Homo sapiens: one gene and its partners. The protein of the gene in region 1 binds, or shares a complex with, the protein of each later gene. Each region holds a gene or a part of one and is shown on either strand. Other genes may lie near its edges. The genes, in order: LIN37, LIN9 and RBBP4. A codon is read from its position in the direction of its gene.

Evidence for each region.
Region 2: the proteins of LIN37 (region 1) and LIN9 are in contact, whole or in part, in a crystal structure (PDB 7N40), measured with the Homo sapiens proteins. Residues at the interface, in NP_061977.1 of Homo sapiens: Tyr95 (codon at 1,534), Ile97 (codon at 1,540), Leu99 (codon at 1,546), Phe100 (codon at 1,549), Asp101 (codon at 1,552), Arg102 (codon at 1,555), Val104 (codon at 1,561), Leu106 (codon at 1,567), Ala107 (codon at 1,570), Phe109 (codon at 1,576), Ser110 (codon at 1,579), Glu111 (codon at 1,582), Asn112 (codon at 1,585), Thr113 (codon at 1,588), Pro114 (codon at 1,591), Leu115 (codon at 1,594), Tyr116 (codon at 1,597), Ile118 (codon at 1,603), Cys119 (codon at 1,606), Arg120 (codon at 1,609), Trp122 (codon at 1,615), Met123 (codon at 1,618), Asn125 (codon at 1,624); in NP_001353174.1 of Homo sapiens: Lys99, Ala101, Ser102, Gln103, Lys104, Ile105, Gly106, Arg108, Leu109, Arg110, Leu112, Leu113, Lys114, His119, Trp121, Cys122, Ile123, Glu125, Trp126, Phe127, Thr227, Leu237, Phe238, Leu272, Ser273, Asn274.
Region 3: the proteins of LIN37 (region 1) and RBBP4 are in contact, whole or in part, in a crystal structure (PDB 7N40), measured with the Homo sapiens proteins. Residues at the interface, in NP_061977.1 of Homo sapiens: Asn112 (codon at 1,585), Thr113 (codon at 1,588), Pro114 (codon at 1,591), Leu115 (codon at 1,594), Tyr116 (codon at 1,597), Pro117 (codon at 1,600), Arg120 (codon at 1,609), Arg124 (codon at 1,621); in NP_005601.1 of Homo sapiens: Thr37 (codon at 974), Ala39 (codon at 968), Leu40 (codon at 965), Glu41 (codon at 962), Tyr98, Asp99, Ser100, Glu101, Lys102, Gly103, Glu104, Phe105, Gly106, Lys114, Glu116.

What each region holds. Positions count from the first base shown.
Region 1 is NC_000019.10:35,751,559-35,755,149, forward strand, and holds the end of LIN37 (protein lin-37 homolog), read left to right. Parts: intron 1-617; coding exon 618-693; intron 694-875; coding exon 876-926; intron 927-1,245; coding exon 1,246-1,275; intron 1,276-1,355; coding exon 1,356-1,441; intron 1,442-1,528; coding exon 1,529-1,695; intron 1,696-2,458; coding exon 2,459-2,599; intron 2,600-2,687; coding exon 2,688-2,761; intron 2,762-2,834; coding exon 2,835-2,916; 3' UTR 2,917-2,961; downstream 2,962-3,591.
Region 2 is NC_000001.11:226,232,465-226,236,211, forward strand, and holds part of LIN9 (protein lin-9 homolog), read right to left. Parts: intron 1,060-3,747; coding exon 880-1,059; intron 730-879; coding exon 632-729; intron 143-631; coding exon 37-142; 3' UTR 1-36. UniProt on the Homo sapiens protein: Acts as a tumor suppressor. Inhibits DNA synthesis. Its ability to inhibit oncogenic transformation is mediated through its association with RB1. Plays a role in the expression of genes required for the G1/S transition.
Region 3 is NC_000001.11:32,649,233-32,652,979, reverse strand, and holds the start of RBBP4 (histone-binding protein RBBP4), read right to left. Parts: upstream 1,773-3,747; 5' UTR 1,674-1,772; coding exon 1,658-1,673; intron 1,625-1,657; exon of another isoform or gene 1,548-1,624; intron 1,067-1,547; coding exon 919-1,066; intron 1-918. Other genes in the region: ZBTB8OS (protein archease), read left to right, coding at 2,415-2,547. UniProt on the Homo sapiens protein: Core histone-binding subunit that may target chromatin assembly factors, chromatin remodeling factors and histone deacetylases to their histone substrates in a manner that is regulated by nucleosomal DNA.

The DNA of each region.
Region 1 (3,591 bases):
CTCTATGGCATGTGCCTATAGCCCCAGCTACTTGGGAGGCTGAGACAGCAGGACCGCTTGAGCCCAGGAGTTCAAAACCGGACAACATCGTGATATCCTTTTTCAAGAAAAAAAAAAATCACATCTACCTCTAAGGGTTATTGTGATAATTCAGTGGGTTATTATTTGTAATATATAGCATATTTAAACCTTGCCACTGGGACAGGCACAGTGGCTCACACCTGTAATCCCAGCACTTTGGGAAGCCGAGATGGCTCACCTGAATCTAGGAGTTCAAGACCAGCTTGGTCAATATCATTAAGACTCCATCTCTATACAATTTTTTTGTAATAAATTTATATTATATTAAAACACATTTTTTTAAAACCCAAAAGGCTCATAAGGTAAGGTGATTGGCCTTACCTCCTGTCACAGAGCAATCACGTGGGACAGCTCTGGAACTCAGAGCTCTGGGCATCACTCCAGCCATCTCTGCCTGTTGCACCCTTTCAGGCTGCCTGGGCCTGGCTCTGAGATTGGCCAGGGCAGAGGACACGCACGCCCTTCCCTGGCCCAGTCAGCTGCCCACCTAGCTGGGGCCTGGGAGCTGACTCCTGCTGGGTCCTCTCTTGCCCCAGAGCTGGAGATGGCCAAAGCCCGGAACCAACTGGATGCTGTCTTGCAGTGTCTGCTGGAGAAGAGTCACATGGACAGGTAGGCCAGCGTGGGGTCACAGGGCCGGGCACCCTGGTGGGTTGGGCCCTCTGATCCTGGGTGGATTGGGTGGGACCCCACAGGCTGACTTGGGGAGGAAGGTGCTTAATGGGGAGGCTGCTCGGTGCCTTCCTTCTCTGGGGCCCTGGAACCCTGAGCTGAGAGATCTCTTCTGCCTCTAGGGAGCGTCTGGATGAGGAAGCTGGGAAAACACCCTCAGACACCCACAATAAGTGAGTTTTTCTGATTGGATTTGGAGTTGAGAGTTCGTGGTTGGTAACTTCTTTCCTTATCCAAGCCCTGACCGCTCAGCCCAGCGCTACCTCCATCGTGGCCCGGACCACTCCACCTGTACAAAGACCCTGTGGCAGGAGAAGCTTAGGTCCCCCCGTGGTTGCCACCTAGACCCCCATGGGTATGGGTGGGACAAAAGGCCCAAGAGGCAAGTGGGGTTCATGTGAGCATCTCAGGTTTGATACCAGTATCCCCAGGGTGCCCTCTGCAGGGTTTTGCACAGGCGTTTGTCTGAGGGTCAACTGTCTTTCCCCACAGGGACTGCTCCATCGCAGCCACTGGCAAAAGGTAAGGTGGCAGGGTCCCAGCCAGCTGACTAGAGGCTCCCAGCTCCTACCCCAGTCCTGACACTCCCTCTCCCTACGCAGGCCATCTGCCCGCTTCCCCCACCAGCGGAGGAAGAAGAGGAGGGAGATGGATGATGGGCTGGCTGAGGGAGGGCCGCAGCGATCCAGTGAGTAGACAGTGGCCCTAGAGGGTCGGTAAGGAGCCAAGGGCCTATGCAAGGATGCTCACACACCTCCCATCCCCACCTTCCCAGACACATATGTGATCAAGCTGTTCGACCGGAGCGTGGACTTGGCCCAGTTCAGCGAGAACACGCCACTGTACCCAATCTGCCGCGCCTGGATGCGCAACAGCCCCTCTGTGCGCGAGCGTGAATGCTCTCCCAGCTCACCCCTGCCCCCGCTGCCTGAGGATGAGGAGGTGGGATGGGTAGTGGGTCCCAGCCCAGCAGCCTGGTGCCAGGGCAGTGGGTGGATAGGCTCAAAGGATCCTGCCCCTAAGCTAGTGGGATAGACAGACACAGGTCCCTCACGTGAATCCTGGATCAGGCTAGGCACACAGATGTGCACTCTTAGGTTGGGGTGTGGATCAGAGTCCCTAGGGAAGACATACGTAACCACCTGGCCTGGGAGACAGGGAACAGGGTTACCCTGGACAGTTAGATGTGGACCTCCAAGATCAGGGGTTCCCAAGAGCCGAGGGGCTAGACAAGGGTCCTTAGTACAGACAGAAGTGGCCACCAGGCCTTGAGGAGCAGGGGCTGGGCAGGAATGGATGGGAGTCTATAAGCCATCTGACCCAGCGGGGTAGACAAGGGTCCCCAGGACAGACATATAGGACCCTTCAGACATATAGGACTGTCAGAAATGGACAGAGCTTCCTAGGTGGCACAGACGTGACCCCCTAGACAGGATTCCCTGAGGCAGGCAGACGCGACTCCCTGGGCTGACAGGTGTAGATGGAGTCTCTGGGCTGGATAGGAGAAGACAGGGGTCCCTGGGGCAGGCACACTTGACCCGCTGGCTGGTTGAGGTGTCTGCCCTTCATACATGCCTCCTGTCTGAGTCCCTTAGCGAGCCCCTCATGCCATTTGTTGCTGGGAAAGGCAGGAGGGATGAATGTGGATTCCCAGCCCCTCTGCTTTGACTCTCTTGGGCCTGGCATGGGGCCCTTGTGTCCCCAGGGCTCAGAGGTAACCAACAGCAAGAGTCGTGATGTGTACAAGCTGCCGCCACCCACACCCCCGGGGCCACCCGGAGATGCCTGCAGATCCCGCATCCCATCTCCACTGCAGCCTGAGATGCAGGGCACCCCTGACGATGAGGTGAGTATGCCAGGCTGGCCCAGGGTTATGGGGCACATGCGGTAGGGCTCAGGAATGGCCACTCAACCTGGCCTGTCTGTCCATGCAGCCCTCTGAGCCCGAGCCCTCACCCTCCACACTCATCTATCGCAACATGCAGCGCTGGAAACGCATCCGCCAGAGGTGAGCGTCCCCCAGCCTGCTTGCCCCTCGTAGGGCCCTTTGCAACTGCTGAGTCTCCCCTCTGCCTCCCCAGGTGGAAGGAGGCCTCTCATCGGAACCAGCTTCGTTACTCAGAAAGCATGAAGATCCTACGAGAGATGTACGAACGACAGTGATGTTCCCAGGTCCCCCCACACCAGTAAACATCCCCCAGCTCCACACTGGTGTCTGCTCCGGTCCCTCCTTCCTGGCCCAGGCACAAAGCAGTTGGCAGAGCTCTAGCACATTTATTGGGAGAGTAAGCCTGGGAAAGACTAAGGGAGTGGTGGCAGGGAGAAAGGCTGTGGGGAATCAGAGCGGGTGCTCAGTTGGGTCTTGAAGGAGAAGAGGAGGAGGGTGGGAGGTGGGTTGCCGAGGATATCTGGTTGAAGACTTGGGGGTCAAGACAAAGGGACTTAGGGGGATGGGGTCTGGTTAGAGTTGGGGAGGGGGCCTAGGACATCCGTGCAGAGTCTGGGGAGGTTGGGGTGGGAGAGTCTGTACAGTTTGGTGTTGGGTGTTCTAGTTGGCCTGGTGTCCAAGAGTTGGGGCAGTCGAAAAAGGGTTCCAGAGTCTGGTGTGGCTGGCTGGGGTTTCACGGCAGAAAATGGGCTGGAGGGGGCAGTTGTAGACTGTCTGGTTGCAGGGGAAGGATCGGGTCTTGGGAACCAGGCCTGGATGGTCTGGAGTGGGAGGTCTGTGCAGTCCAGGACGTTTGGGGGGTGGGGGGATTGTGCCTGACTGGCCTGGGGTTGGGGGAGGGCTGTCTACACCATAATTTGGTGTCAAAATAGGGAAGGGATGGAAATGTA
Region 2 (3,747 bases), on another chromosome or scaffold:
CAATGTCCCGTGCAGTTGGAATAATGAAATCTTTACTCAGTCTCTGTTGGTGTTATTTGCTGCAAAGGCATGTAAGTTTCCCATCTGGCTCAGGCCACTCTGAATATGTGCAACATGGATTTCTACATTATTCTGAAAGCAACTAAAGAAAGAAGAAACATGGTTAACTACTTTATTTCAAAAAATTAAGAAAAAAATTTTTAAAAGAAGACCTGAATTTTAGTTAGGAAACAGCTATGATAAATCTTAGGGAAGGAATAAATCTCCTCTAATATATTAGCCATAATTCTACTTCAGTAGTAGTTGAACAAATATGCTCTAAAGAAGCAAAGGAGCCACGGGGGGCTGGAAGGAGAAGATGAGTCTCTCACTGACTGGGGAAGCTCTACCTCTAAGCTCAACCTCCATGCTGACCCCAAACCTAAATATATGTCCTGATTTCTTTATATACAAAATCCATGTGAAATTTCTATTCTGTCCATAGGCTGGATATAAGTGAAAAGCTCTTACAAATATATTTAACGGATAATAATATATGAGTACTTCACAAATATGCATAATTCTTAAAACCTGGACTGAAAATTACTATGAACTTCACATTAAAATGATTAGAGTATACCTAACGAATTACCTGATATTAGAAGCGTCTATTGTACTCTTGATATCATTTAATGAGTCTGTAAGTGATTTGAATTCAAAGGAATTCAGGTCTCCTCCTTCTGCTAGACACTAAAGGGAAAAAAATTTCAAAATTTAATTGCATTATAGCTCAAATATAGTCATAAAATACCTGATATAATCAATGAATTAATTTCTTAGCAACAAATTAGCGTGGGTTGCTTTGTGTCAAATTAAGAAAATATTTTCTCTAAGATTTACCTTAATTTGTAACAAAATAGCTGTAAGCCTGGAAATTAAGTCTGTCAGATTTTCATTTTCAACGCAGGGCTGTCCTGTTGAGGAATTTGCATGCCGAACAATTTCCTGTGCTTCTTCCTCACACCTGCGTCTCATATCTGTTGGCTGATCTGCAGGCTGGAGCCCCTGGTCTGGAGCAAGCTGAATACAGATGATTGAAGCATGAGACGCATGTTCGAGAAGCCATGATTATTTCTGTATGTGTTTGTGCCCTCTTTTCAGATTTTAATTTTTATAAAACTAGCATTTAAAACTAAAGTGGTACTCTTACCTTAGAAGTTTTTTTCCTTTAACAGTTTCTGATTTTCTATTTTTTGTAATTTTTAATTTTGATATAATTTCAAACTTCTAAAAAAAGTTAAAAGAATAAAACAAAGAACTCTTGATAACATTTACTCAGATTTACTGTTTATGTTTTACTACATTTGATCTGCCATTTGATCTCTGTGAATGTATAATTCTTCCCGTTACTAATTTAAGAATAAGTTGCAAACACTGTGCCTCATTACCTCTAATCACTCCAGTTTGTATTTCCTTGGTATTTTTGAAGAGTACGAGCCAATTATTTTGTGTAATATCCCCCAATGTGGGTTTGTTTGTTTCCTTATGATTAGACTGAAGTTATGCATTTTTGGGCAGAAATACTACAAATGTGGTGCTGAGTTCTCTGGCATCTTTATTAGAAGGCACGTGATGTTGACCTGTCCCATTACTGGTGATGTTCTCTTTGATCAATTGGTAAGTTAAGTGTCTGCCAGATTTCCCTACAGTAAAGGATTTCCTTTTTGTAAGTACTAAGTAGTTGTGAAGAGATACTTTGAGGCTATGTAAACATCCTATTTGTCATCAAACTTTTACCTACCAATTTTAGCATCTGTTGATGATTCTTGTCTATATCAATTATTACTATGATGGTTGCAAAATGGTGTTTTTCTCACTCTTAACACTGCTTCTATATTTATTAGTTGGCATTTTACTACAAAGTAGTTTCCCTTAAAAAATGAACTAGTATCAGTATGAACCCATACTGACATAACTTTTATTCTATGGGTTATAATCTCTTACTATATTTATTTATTCTGAAGCTCAAATTGTCCCAGATTTGGCCAGTGGGAACCCTGTCAAGCTGGCCCTTTTTGACACGTCCCCGTAATTTGGGGGCACATTTTACTTCCTTGGCATAATAAGGTGGGCCGGGCTCATCTTCTTTCTCTGCCTCAGGTCTGGAATCAGTCTCTTTTTCAAGAAGTCCTGCTTTTTTAAATTGGAGAACAGAGATAAGAGACCAAGATCTGGGTCTAGTGTGTTCTTTGCTATTAGGGTGTCTTTGCTTTTGGCTCTCTCAGCAGACATATACACTCACTTATACATATAGCATAAAGATAAAATAAACCATGAATTCATACTGATTCCCCCTATTCCCATCTAATGCCACAGGGTTCACTCTAGTCTTCCCCCTCTTCATAACTGCCTTCTTCAACAGTGAGAAACCTGGCTCGCGTTATCCTAAATTTTTTTTTTTTTTTTTTGAGACAGTCTCACTCTGTTGCCCAGGCTGGAGTGCAGTGGTGCGATCTCAGCTCACTGCAACCTCTGCCTCCCAGGTTCAATATACTTATTTGCTTCTTTGCTCAGTCCTAGAGTACACAGTAAGAGTTTCAGAACTGCTGCTGGGTGTGGTGGCTCATGCCTGTAATCCCAGTACTTTGGGAGGCCGAGGTGGGTGGATCACCTGAGGTCAGGAGTTCAAGACCAGCCTGGCCAACATGTCTCTACTAAAAATATAAAAATTAGCTGGGCATGGTGGTACATGCCTGTAATCATAGCTACTGGGGAGGCTGAGGCAGGAGAATCGCTTGAACCCCGGAGGCAGAGGTTGCAGTGAACCGAGATTGCGCCCCTGTACTCCAGCCTGGTGGACAAGAGCGAAAATCCGTCTCAAAAAAAAAAAAAAAAAAAAAGAGTTTCAGGACTGCTATGCATGCCACCAAGAGAAAAAATTCTACTAACTAGAGTTCAATGTTTATTTAAATTTTGGTTCAGACTAAAGGTATACAGTCAAAATATAAGTTGAGTATCCCTTATCCAAAATGCTTGGGACCAGAAGTGTTTTGGATTTAGGATTTTTTAAAATTTTAGAATATTTGCATTATACTTACCGGTTGAGAATCCCAAATACAAAACTCCAAAATCCAAACTGCTCCAGGGAGCATTTCCTTTGAGTTTCACTTTGGCACTCAAAAAATTTTGGACTTTGGAGCATTTCAGACTTGGGATGCTCAACCTATGCTATGTTCAAGCTATCTGAATCAGTTTTTATCCCCTTCAGTAAGTTTATGTCACTCCTTTGAAATATAGTTAGGTTCATTTATTTCTGTTTGCATTTACTTGTATTTGTTGGGGAAACAAACACTCAGAAAAATGTCATTCCTTCTTGCTCACCAACTCCTACCCCATTCCCAAATTAGTTTCTAATGTATCCTTTCTGCTTCCTTTTGAAAAATTAAGCTGATACATATACATTGTATTTCCACTTATTTCCTACTCCAAAGGTTATACTTTGGAATATGTATGTGTATTTTCGTATTTGCTTTTTGCATCTAATAACATATCCTGGAAATCACTCTGTGTCAGTAAATAGAGAACTTCCTCTCTTACAGCAGCATAGTATTCAATTGTGTGGATGTACCATAAATAGTCAGTTCCCTATGTGTGGGCATTTATGTTTATTTCTAATATTTTTTAATTACCAATAATGCTTCAATGAATAACTGTATCCTTTAATACTTTTCTAAAATTTAAATTGAAGCATACATAAATACATAAAAG
Region 3 (3,747 bases), on another chromosome or scaffold:
ATTATCTCTCTACAACTGCTGTCACCATATATAACTATAATTATTAGTTTATATCTGCCACTTCAACTAGACAATGTGCTCCTTGAAGGCAGGTACCATGACATACTACGAGAATTCAAATTAAGTTTTGTTGAGGCCAGGTGCAGTGGCTCACGCCTGTAATCCCGGCACTTTGGGAGGCAGAGGCGGGCGGATCACCAGAGGTCAGGGGGTTGGAGACCAGCCTGTCCCACATGGTAAAACCCCGTCTCTACTAAAAATACAAAAAAATTTAGCCAGGCGTGGTGGCAGGTGCCTGTAATCCCAGCTACTTGGGAGGGCTTAGGCAGGAGAATCGCTCGAATCTGGGAGGCAGAGGTTGCAGTGAGTCGAGCTCGCGCCACTGCACTCCAGCCTGGACAACAGAGTGAGACACCGTCTCAAAAAGAAAAACAAAAAATTTTTGTTGTAAGGACTAGACTCATTGTAATACTTTTTTCTTTTTTTGTGTGGGGGGCAGTAGAGACGAGGGTATTCCCAGGGCTGGTCTCCAACTCCTGGCCTCAAGTAAGTCTCCTGCCTGGGCCTCCCAAAGTGCTCGGATTCCAAGTGTGAGCCACTGCTCCTGGCCATAATACTTTTTGAAAGTTGACAAGTTTTGTACTATTATTTGGTACAGCCACTATTATTACAGGTATTATCATCAGCTACAGCTATTTAATTCAGTATTGAGAAAAAAACGCCAATATGTTTTCTCTTGTCAGGTAAGTTACAAAATCATTTTGTTATTTTGCCTTACTTTGTGGCCTAGAAAAAATGTCACCAAGAGGTTTTGATCACATGCCTTCTCCGGGTGACTGAAGAGCGGAAAAAAGAAAATCAATATGAGAAATCTACACTGAAAATACATCAAAATAACGTTCGGGAGAGTCATGTCACCTGGTTACATCTGGAAGCCACTGGGCAGTTAGGCTGGGCCACTCCAGAGCATGGGTCATCACCAAATCATAAAGAAAAGGGGTGTTCTTTTTCCATATTTTGTATTCCTCGTTGATCACTCGTTCTTCCACTGCGTCGTCGAAGGCTGCTAAAATTTTTAAAAACAAATTTAAGTTAGCAAACAAACGGAAACCGAGTAATCCTCTGCAAAGCCACCTGCATGACTCCTACAGCCTAACCATGAAATGGAGGTGATTTGTCTAAATCCCCACGGCAGAGGCATCCACACTCTCCACTTTCGCGGCGCCGAAACTCCTCGGGCCATCCCCGCCAAACACTCCGTTACCCGTTCCAGGCCAAGGGGCCAGCCAGGCCTTCGGAGCACGCTCGTGCGCGCCGAAACTCACAAGCCCGACGAGGAGGCCCGAGCTCCGAGCCTTGTGGGTAGGAAGCGGTGTCCCCACGCTCGGGACAGAGGCCGAGAAACCGATATCGGAGGCAGGAAGAGAAACAAACACTGGCCGGGGGCCCCACCGCTGGCTTCGCCAGCTGCGACCGAAATCGGTCCCAGGGAACTGGCGAGCCGTTAGCACGCCCCGCGGGGAGTTCCCTCTTCACGCCTTCAGTACCGGGGACTGCACTCGGCAAACTCGGGCCTGCCCTCACTGTTAGGCCATGTCGAGGCCGCGGCTCAGCCCAGGCACCCACTGCCCTCCTGGGTCGGCCCCGGCACCCTCACCTTCCTTGTCGGCCATGGCGGGCAGGCGAGCCGGGGGAATCCTGGGGTCGAGCGTTGCGGGAGGGGCGGGGAGGCTGCAAGAGCTCGCTCTGTGCGCGCGGCCTCTATTGTTTCCTGCGCCCCCAGCGCGAGGGCTGACTCGCGCACCTTCGCGCCAACATCAGCCAATGGGAGCGCTCCTAATGGCGGGATGGGCGGGGAAGCCGCGTTCGCGACCAATCCAGACGCGCGGAGTAGCTTTCCGCGGGGACCGAGGCGCGCGCTCCGCCCCTCCCCCCACGCCTCCCCGAGCCGACTTCCAGCGATTGCGCGCGCCGGCGTTGACGGGACTGCGCCCGGTCAGGGTCACGTGAGAGAGGTTTGGTCCGCACACTCCCGCGGCAAGAGGGCAGCCATTTTCTTGAAGGCTATTAAGCTTACGACCCTTTCAGAGTACTGAGATGAAAAATCTAGAATGCCTTCGGGTCTAGTTATCAATTTTGGGGGTGAAGCGGGGGAAAGAACCTCGCCAGTCAGACCCAGACGGGTTTCATTCAAGGTGCCCTTCAACGTTTTTCCTTAGTCTTTGGAAAGAACTAGTAATGAAGGAATCGCAGAAGATGGGGTTTTGGCTTTTTAAATATGCGATCCAAGCGGCAGGGTAGGGACTAAAGTAGGTCAACAGCCAACTCCGAGAAAGGAGTGTGGTCCTTTAAGGGTGTGCGCCAAGGGGCGGAGTCTAGAGCGGAAGTAGTAACTCCGGGCCGAAGTCCGGTGGATGAAGGGCGGAAGTAGAGTGTCTAATCCTGCAGTCATGGCGCAGGAAGAGGAAGATGTTAGAGATTACAATTTGACTGAAGAACAGAAGGCGATCAAGGCCAAGTATCCGCCAGTCAATAGGAAGTACGAGTGTGAGTAGGTGGCTTACTTCTCTCTTTACATGTAAGCACACAGGCATCCCCTCTCCTTACCCGCGGCTTCCTGCTGCTCTTTCTACTGTGCCCCATGGGTACTTCAGGCATGATCCCATTTGTGCCGGCTGTTGTAGTCGCGTTCGTACTTCTCCTGGGGATGCTGAAGGAAAAAGCCACCTGGTTTAATAGTCGCGAAACCTGGCCTCCCTCATTTACAGTCTCTTGAACTTCTTCCACATGTGCCTAATCACATTTATCTTCGTAAATTCTAAAGATAACCATATTTTCAGGCGTTTGCAGGGTTGTTACCCCCATGTATTTCCCAACGGTGAGATTAGAGTGTGCGAGGTTAGAGGACTCGGAAAGCTAATTAGGGGATTTCTAACTTGATGTTTCACCTCGATCATATTAGCAAAAAACCTGGTTTTGCCATTTATGATTGTGATTTTTAAAAATGATTATTTTAGGCCGGGCTCGGTGGCTGAGGCCTGTGATCCCAGCACTTTGGGAGGCCGAGGCGGGCGGATCACCTGAGGTCGGAAGTTCGAGATCAGCCTGACCAACATGGAAAAACCCCGTCTCTACTAAAAATACAAAATTAGCTGGGCGTGGTGGAGCATGTCTGTAATCCCAGCTACTCGGGAGACTGAGGCAGGAGAATCGCTTGAACCCGGGAGGCGGAGGTTGCGGTGAGCCGAGATCGCCCCATTGCACTCCAGCCTGGGCAACGAGCGAAACTCTGTCTCAAAAAAAAAAAAAAATGTGTGTGTGTGTGTGTGTGTGTGTGTGTGTGTGTTTTTAGAGATGGGGTCTCGCTCTGTCGTCCAGGCTGGAGTGCAATGGAGCGATCATAGCCCGCGCTGCAGTGCCCAGCTGGTTTTGCCATTTATTCGCTTAGTGACTTTAGGCAAATCACATAACCTATCTTTGTCTCTTAAATTCTATATTAAACGTTAAGCTGTCATCCCTAAAGGTAGCTGTGGTTTGGGGAGCACAAATCTGACTTTTATTTATCTGCTTAAAATCTTTCATTAATTTCTCATTGTCCTCTCTGTAAAATCTACTTATTTACCATAGTATTCTAGGCAATGTGCTTTCTGGAGCTGGCATACCTCCTAGCATATCCCCTTCTCTCACTTAAAAACAATTTTAAAATATTATAGGCCGTTTGCGGTGGCTCACACTTATAATCCCAGC